Homo sapiens: one gene and its partner. The protein of the gene in region 1 purifies or fractionates together with the protein of each later gene. This does not show direct contact. Each region holds a gene or a part of one and is shown on either strand. Other genes may lie near its edges. The genes, in order: APOBEC3G and MOV10.

What was found.
Region 2: the proteins of APOBEC3G (region 1) and MOV10 purify together in Homo sapiens (affinity purification with western blotting, with the first as the bait; one study listed by BioGRID). This does not show direct contact.

What each region holds. Positions count from the first base shown.
Region 1 is NC_000022.11:39,083,469-39,087,277, forward strand, and holds part of APOBEC3G (DNA dC->dU-editing enzyme APOBEC-3G), read left to right. Parts: intron 1-262; coding exon 263-416; intron 417-2,810; coding exon 2,811-3,099; intron 3,100-3,542; coding exon 3,543-3,658; intron 3,659-3,809.
Region 2 is NC_000001.11:112,691,401-112,695,209, forward strand, and holds part of MOV10 (helicase MOV-10), read left to right. Parts: intron 1-264; coding exon 265-399; intron 400-1,360; coding exon 1,361-1,529; intron 1,530-2,617; coding exon 2,618-2,772; intron 2,773-3,052; coding exon 3,053-3,229; intron 3,230-3,348; coding exon 3,349-3,496; intron 3,497-3,809.

The DNA of each region.
Region 1 (3,809 bases):
CTGACCCTGGGGAGACCCTGACAAGGCTTAGACAGGCCCCAGGGCTGCCGTGATCTCCCAGTGAGCCCCAGAAGGGGTCAGAGGGGGAGGTTTGGAGGCTCTAGCAAGTGAGTGGGAGCCCCTTCTGACAGGTGCTAAGGGATGTGGGGAGCCGGGGGAAGGAAGGAGGGTGGGGTGCAAGGGAGGAAGCGTGGAGAGGGAGGGGGAGGTGGGACAGACCAGGAGGGCTCTTACTCCTCTGGGCTTTTCCCCCACTTTCCAGACACTCGATGGATCCACCCACATTCACTTTCAACTTTAACAATGAACCTTGGGTCAGAGGACGGCATGAGACTTACCTGTGTTATGAGGTGGAGCGCATGCACAATGACACCTGGGTCCTGCTGAACCAGCGCAGGGGCTTTCTATGCAACCAGGTGACCAACCCAGCCACCCGCATCCAGGCAGGGCCCTCCCAACCCAGGGACACCCATGGGCAGAAGGTTCTGGGTGGTACCTGTGGTGTCCTGCAGAGTGTCTGTCACCTGTGCTTCCTGTAGCTGCTGCTGCTTGGCCCTGGGGTTGGGGGAGACTTCGGCTTCAGTGACTCTCCAGGATTGGTGGCTTCCAGCCCCACACGCCTAACCAGCCACATGTCTCAGGGGCTAACACCACTAGTCCAGAGTCACCCCCAGGTCCAGGTCTCAGCCGTCCCCACTCCTGCTGTGCTCTGAGAGGGTCAGGGCAGAGGAAAAGGGTCTGCACCAGGGCCAAGTGGGATCAAAGAAAAAGCGCTTCCGGCCGGGCACGGTGGCTCATGCCTGTAATCCCAGCACTTTGGGAGGCCGAGGCTGGCGATCACAAGGTCAGGAGATCAAGACCATCCTGGCTAACACGGTGAAACCCCATCTCTATTAAAAATACAAAAAATTAGCCAGGTGTGGTGGCAGGCGCCTGTAGTCCCAGCTATTCAGGAGACTGAGGCAGGAGAATGGCATGAACCTGGGAGGCAGAGCTTGCAGTGAGCCAAGATCGTGCCACTGCACTCCACCTGGGCAACAGAGCGAGACTCCGTCTCAAGAAAAAAAAAAAAAGTGCTTCCTGAGGACCCTCCCAGGATCCCCTCACAGACACAGCTCCCACCAGGAATGATTCAGAACTGTGGGATTTGAGGATCAGGGCCTACCTGACCTCACAAGGCCAGGATTCCCCAGTGCCTGCTCCTGGGCTTCATCCTGCGGGAAAAGAGACTGAGGCAGGAGAGGCCGACCAGGGATTCTGTCCTGACCAGGATGGAGCCCACAGCAAGGCCAGAACAGGCCCCAAGTCAGGATGCAGGGATGGCCAGCATTTGAAGAAGAGCTGGGCCAGGCCAGGCCGAGGGGCCCTGAGCCCGAGGGACGTTCTTCCCTCGCCCTTGCCCAGCACAGCCCCTGGCTGGAGAGGCCAAATTCTGCTTGGCTCTGGTGCTGGAAACGGGGTTCCTCTGGGCTCTATGAGCTTAATATGGGCCCTGCTGGGCCCACACACACTGCTTGGAAGCTACTTTCAAAGGCACCGGTCCCCATCACTGTCTAACCAGTGGGATGGGACTCCCCCAGGAATGACCCACAGCCCCTTCTCAGCACAAATCGTGTCATCCATTCTACCCCGAGTCCTCTCTGCACTGGACTCCTGGGCTTGACTAGTTCCCAGTCGAAATTTGGACAAAACACCATCATTCCTTGGGCTCAACAAGGACAATCACCCCATGACTGGGGCCCTTCCCAATGTGGGGTTAGTCCTGCTGGGGGCCCCTCATCCCCACTTCTCCCTGCAAAGGGAGCCCTCTGGCCTCAGTCTATGTCACTCGTGGGCTTAATACAGGGTAAAGCACAATGTGGAAGCTTCTAGAATTATAGGTCACAGAAGGGGTGGGGCAAGGGGAATTGACGGGTAGACAGGTCAGCCTCCCCATGAGGGAAGCACACGCAGCTCAGTGGCATCTGTCCTCCCTCCCCCAGCTCTACAGCCCCTCCCTGCAGGCCTGGGGCGGAGTGAGGGTCCTGAAGGCACTGACCTCATGTGCAGAATGAGAGGATGCTCCAAATACTCAGTATCAGAGAAATCTCATCGTAATGGAAAATTAAATTATTTAATAGATTATTGTAAAAATCCGGTCAGGTGTGGTGGCTCATGCCTGTAGTCTCAGCACTTTGGGAGGCTGAGGCGGGCAGATCACTTGAGGTCAGGAGTTCAAGACAAGCCTGGCCAATATGGTGAAACCCCGTCTCTACTGAAAATACAAAGATTAGCCAGGCGTGGTGGTGCATGCCTGCAGTCCCAGTTACTGGGGAGGCTGAGACACCAGAATCGCTTGAACCCGGGAGGTGGAGGTTGCAGTGAGCCAAGATGGCGCCACTGCACTCCAGCCTGAGTGACAGAACCAGACTCTGTCTCAAAGAAAAGAAAGGAAAAGAAAAGAAAAGTCATCTTGATAACTGGGGTTTGGTGCCCCCGTCTAATTTTGTGCTGGAGGCTGCCCCGCACCCACCCTGATCCAGGCTGTCCCTCCTGACTCACTAAAAATTCCCTCGGCCGGGCGCTGTGGCTCATGCCTGTAATCCCAGCACTTTGGGAGGCTGAGGAGGGCAGATCACCTGAGGTTGGGAGTTTGAGACCAGCCTGAACCACATGGAGAAACCCCTTTTCTACTAGAAATACAAAATTAGCCTGGTGTGGTGGTGCATGCCTGTAATCCTAGCTACTTGTACACTCCAGCCTGGGCAACAAGAGTGAAACTCTGTCTCAAAAAAAAAAAAGATTACCTCATGGCTTGCTTTCTTTTCTAGGCTCCACATAAACACGGTTTCCTTGAAGGCCGCCATGCAGAGCTGTGCTTCCTGGACGTGATTCCCTTTTGGAAGCTGGACCTGGACCAGGACTACAGGGTTACCTGCTTCACCTCCTGGAGCCCCTGCTTCAGCTGTGCCCAGGAAATGGCTAAATTCATTTCAAAAAACAAACACGTGAGCCTGTGCATCTTCACTGCCCGCATCTATGATGATCAAGGAAGATGTCAGGAGGGGCTGCGCACCCTGGCCGAGGCTGGGGCCAAAATTTCAATAATGACATACAGTGGTGAGAATGGAAGCCTGGAGTAGGATGGGGTCAGCCAGGGCAGGAGAGGGCCCCGGGAAGTTACTAGAAAGTGGGGAGGGTCGGCATCCCTGTGGGAAAGGCCTTGATCCTCTGCCTGCAGAGGCGATGGCTGCACTCTGGACCTGACTTTGGGGTCGACGGGAAGAGAGAGGCCAGGCCAGGAGATGTGGACCTGGGGAGGGCGGGGAGGGTGGCTGGAAGTGGAAGCAGAACTTGGGGCTTCCAGAAAAAATGAGAACTGGGCTGGCCCAGATTCCAATAGGAAAGAAGTGCCTGATGAAGGAGCTAAGTCCCTAGGGGAGGGAGAGGGAAAGGAGGGACTGAAACCAGGATGTGGGAAGTCTGTCTTGAGAGTCATGGGCCTTTGGTGCCACCACGATCCCACAGCGGGAGTGTGACTTATCTCCCCTGTCCCTTTTCAGAATTTAAGCACTGCTGGGACACCTTTGTGGACCACCAGGGATGTCCCTTCCAGCCCTGGGATGGACTAGATGAGCACAGCCAAGACCTGAGTGGGAGGCTGCGGGCCATTCTCCAGGTGAGGGCTTCTTCCCTCTGCCCAGTGCCCCATCGGCCTCCCCCTCCTCCCCTCTCCCCTGCGCCGTGCCTTCCCCTCTGCTCAGAGCCTCCTCTGGGTTCCCTGCTCCCCCAGGGCACCTGTCTCTGTCCCTCCCTTTCCTTCTCACAGC
Region 2 (3,809 bases), on another chromosome or scaffold:
TCCTGGATGGTAAGAATGATATTTACTTATTACCTATTACCTGATTTTTTTCTCTAGTGATCATTTATTACTTAGATAATAGTTTTAAAGGTTTCCAAGTATCGCATGTTCCAAAAATGAGAGTAGTCCACCCTTGGAGCGAGGCTGCTGACTTCCCTTCAGCAGTAGGATTGCAGGAGGGCTTTGTGCATCCACCCCAGAGGGGCGTTCTCAGAGTGTTGGAGGGTGAGGGGTTTTCTGTGTTTTCTTCCCTCGATTCTGCAGCGCTAAGGGCTATGACCTGGAGTTAAGTATGGCGCTGGGGACATACTACCCACCTCCCCGCCTCAGGCAGCTGCTCCCCATGCTTCTTCAGGGAACAAGTATCTTCACTGCCCCTAAGGAGATCGCAGAGATCAAGTAAGTACCATCCCTCTGCACCCCGCACTCTCCCGTCTTTTACCTACTGGCTTCTTTGCATTGCCCTGGCACCTCCGTCCTCAGCCTCCCAGGCTGTATTCATTCATTCCCTTACTGAGCACGCACCATACACCAAGCACCATTCAAGGTGAACCAGTCAAATGAAGGCCTGGCTCATTTTAATGGGGGACAATGAGCATTTTTGTTACAATTTCATGGAGTGATGAGTGCTGTGAAGAACTAAACAGGTCAGGTGTAAGTGGCTCATGCCTGTAATCTCAGCACTTTGGGAGGCCGAGGCAGGTGGATCATTTAAGCCCAAGAGTTCAAGACCAGCCTGGGGCAACATAGTGAGATTCTGTCTCTACAAAAAAAAATTTTAATTAGCCAAGTGTGGTGGCACATGTCTGTAGTCCCAGCTACTTGTGAGGCAGAGGTGGGAGAATTTCTTGAGCCCAGGAGGTTGAGGACACAGTGAGTGAGCCCAGATCATGCCACTGCACTCCAGCATGGGTGACAGAGCAAGATCTTGTCTCTAAAAAAGATGAACAGAACTATACTGAAACTAAAGCAGGGTTAGGGAATGGGTTGGTGCTGCTTTGCAGAAGGCCAGTTAGTCCTGGCCTGTTTGAGGTAGTGATGTTTGAACAGAGAAGGACATTTGAATGAGGTGAGGGTGGGAGTCATGAGAGGATTGGAGGAGAATGTTCTGGCCATAAGAGCCACCATGCAAATGCAAGTCGGGTGAGGTGGGGGCAGGGGCATCCAAGGAAGCAGGAGCCAAGGCTTCCTTCTTCAGGGCCTCTGACTCTCATCCACTTCTGTATCCCTCTAGTCTTCTCTGCTTTTTGACGCTAGTTCCAGAGCTTCAGGTGGGAGAAGGTGGATACTCCTGGGCATAGGGGTTGTCTGGCCCATCCTGTTCCTGCCCCCACTCACCCCTCCCAACCATCATTTCCAGGGCCCAGCTGGAGACAGCCCTGAAGTGGAGGAACTATGAGGTGAAGCTGCGGCTGCTGCTGCACCTGGAGGAACTGCAGATGGAGCATGATATCCGGCACTATGACCTGGAGTCGGTGCCCATGACCTGGGACCCTGTGGACCAGAACCCCAGGCTGCTCACGCTGGAGGTCAGGGCTCAGATTGAGTGTGAGGAGGGTGGGCTCAAGCCAGCCAAGCTAGAGGCTGTGGGCAGAACTATTCCTGACAGCAGGGCAGAACAAGAGGAAAGTTGAAGTGGTTCCCAGGGCTCCGCAAGAAGCAGGGTGGGCATCCTGTGCCCAAAGATGTGTTGGAGCAGGGAAATGGGGAAGATCTGGGTTCTAGTCCAGGCTTTGCTACCACCTTGGGTAAGTCCCTGGCTTTCTCTAAGCCTTAGTTCCCTTATCTGAAAAGCACAGAGCTGGACTGGATAATTCTTAGAGCTCTTTCTGGCTCTTGGATTTTCAATGTGTGCATATAAGCCCAAAATTACACACGAGAATGGATTTCTACACACAATTGCAGGTGGGAATTAGAGGGTGAGTTTGTTCAAGGAAAGATTACTGCAGGAAGTGAGTTTTGAACAAGTTTTTTGTTGTTGTTGTTTTTGTTTTGAGACAGGGTCTCACCCTGGTGCTCAGGCTGGAGTGCAATGGCATGATCTTGGCTCGCTTTAATCCCCGCCGCCCGGGCTCAAGTGATCCTCCCAAGTAGCTGGGACCACAGACATGCCCCACTACGCCTGGCTAATTTTTGTATTTTTTGTAGAGATGGGGTTTTGCCACATTGGCCAGGCTGGTCTCGCAACACCTGGACTCAAGTGATCCGCCTGCCTCAGTCTCCCAAAGTGCTGGGATTACAGGCGTGAGCCACCATGCCTGGTCCGTTTTTTTTTTTTTTTTTTTTTAATTATTTTTTTAGCAACCCGATTAACTGATGAACAGGATTTTTATAGGCAGAGCAGGAACTGAGCTGGCCAAGAGGGCAGCTGCACTGGAGGCTCCGGGTTCCTGGGCTCGGCATCTCTGGGCAGCTTCGGAGGATTTGTCTTCTTCCTCTTCCCCTGACTCCTGCTGGTATGAAAGGAAAGAGGGGTGCAGGGATAGCATAACTCCCTGAGTCTTAGGTTAGAAGGCCAGTCTCAGTCCTTGTCCCTTAAAGGTCTGGGGAACCTGGGGGCTGGGCCCTCCAGCGTCCATCCCTGGGACAGAAGCTTGCTTGTGTTCACACCCCATAGGTTCCTGGAGTGACTGAGAGCCGCCCCTCAGTGCTACGGGGCGACCACCTGTTTGCCCTTTTGTCCTCGGAGACACACCAGGAGGACCCCATCACATATAAGGGCTTTGTGCACAAGGTGGAATTGGACCGTGTCAAGCTGAGCTTTTCCATGAGGTGGGTGTTGGGGGAACCCTGAGCTGCTGGAAGGGTCTACAGACTTCTGACCCCAGGGGAGGAGGAGTGTTTCTCCCTGAGATAAATGAGACCCCGGGGCAGAGCAGGAGACTTTTCCTCAGGGGTACCCTGAGATGCTACGGCAGCTTCCTCTTCTAGAGAACTTGCATAGAGGTCTTGGAAAGAGGGGTTGGGACACTGGTTGGTGGAGAAAGTTCTGGCCCTTTATTGCCCACCTCCCCTGCCCCAACAAACTCTTACCACCTCTCTCTGCCCAAAGCCTCCTGAGCCGCTTTGTGGATGGGCTGACCTTCAAGGTGAACTTTACCTTCAACCGCCAGCCGCTGCGAGTCCAGCACCGTGCCCTGGAGCTGACAGGGCGCTGGCTGCTGTGGCCCATGCTCTTTCCTGTGGCACCTCGGGACGTCCCGCTGCTGCCCTCAGATGTGAAACTCAAGTGAGACTGTGGGCAGGGAGCTTCTGGAGCCACTTGGAGTGTGGGCACAGGGGGTGGAGTCAGGGAGGCCTCTGGGTCACTGGATGACTTCAAGTTCACATTCCTGGTCCCTCTGCCAGGCTGTACGACCGGAGTCTGGAGTCAAACCCAGAGCAGCTGCAGGCCATGAGGCACATTGTTACGGGCACCACCCGTCCAGCCCCCTACATCATCTTTGGGCCTCCAGGCACCGGCAAGACTGTCACGTTAGTGGAGGCAATTAAGCAGGTGGGGTCTGAGCACAAACCTGGGGCCTGCACTCTGATTCCCCCAGCACCAAGCAGTTGTCCCCAGATTCTAGTTCCTTCCCACTCCCGAAATGCTCCTGCTTCTAAGCAGCCATCAGAAAGAGAGGTAGGGGCCGGGTGCAGTGGCTCATGCCTGTAATCTCAGCACTTGGGGAAGACTAGCCCAAGGAGTTCAAGACCAGCCTGGACAATATTGCAAGACCCTATCTCTATGAAAAATATGAAAAATAGCTGGGCACTTGAGGCTGCAGTGCGATTGTGCCACTGCACTCCATCCTGGGTGACAGAGTGAG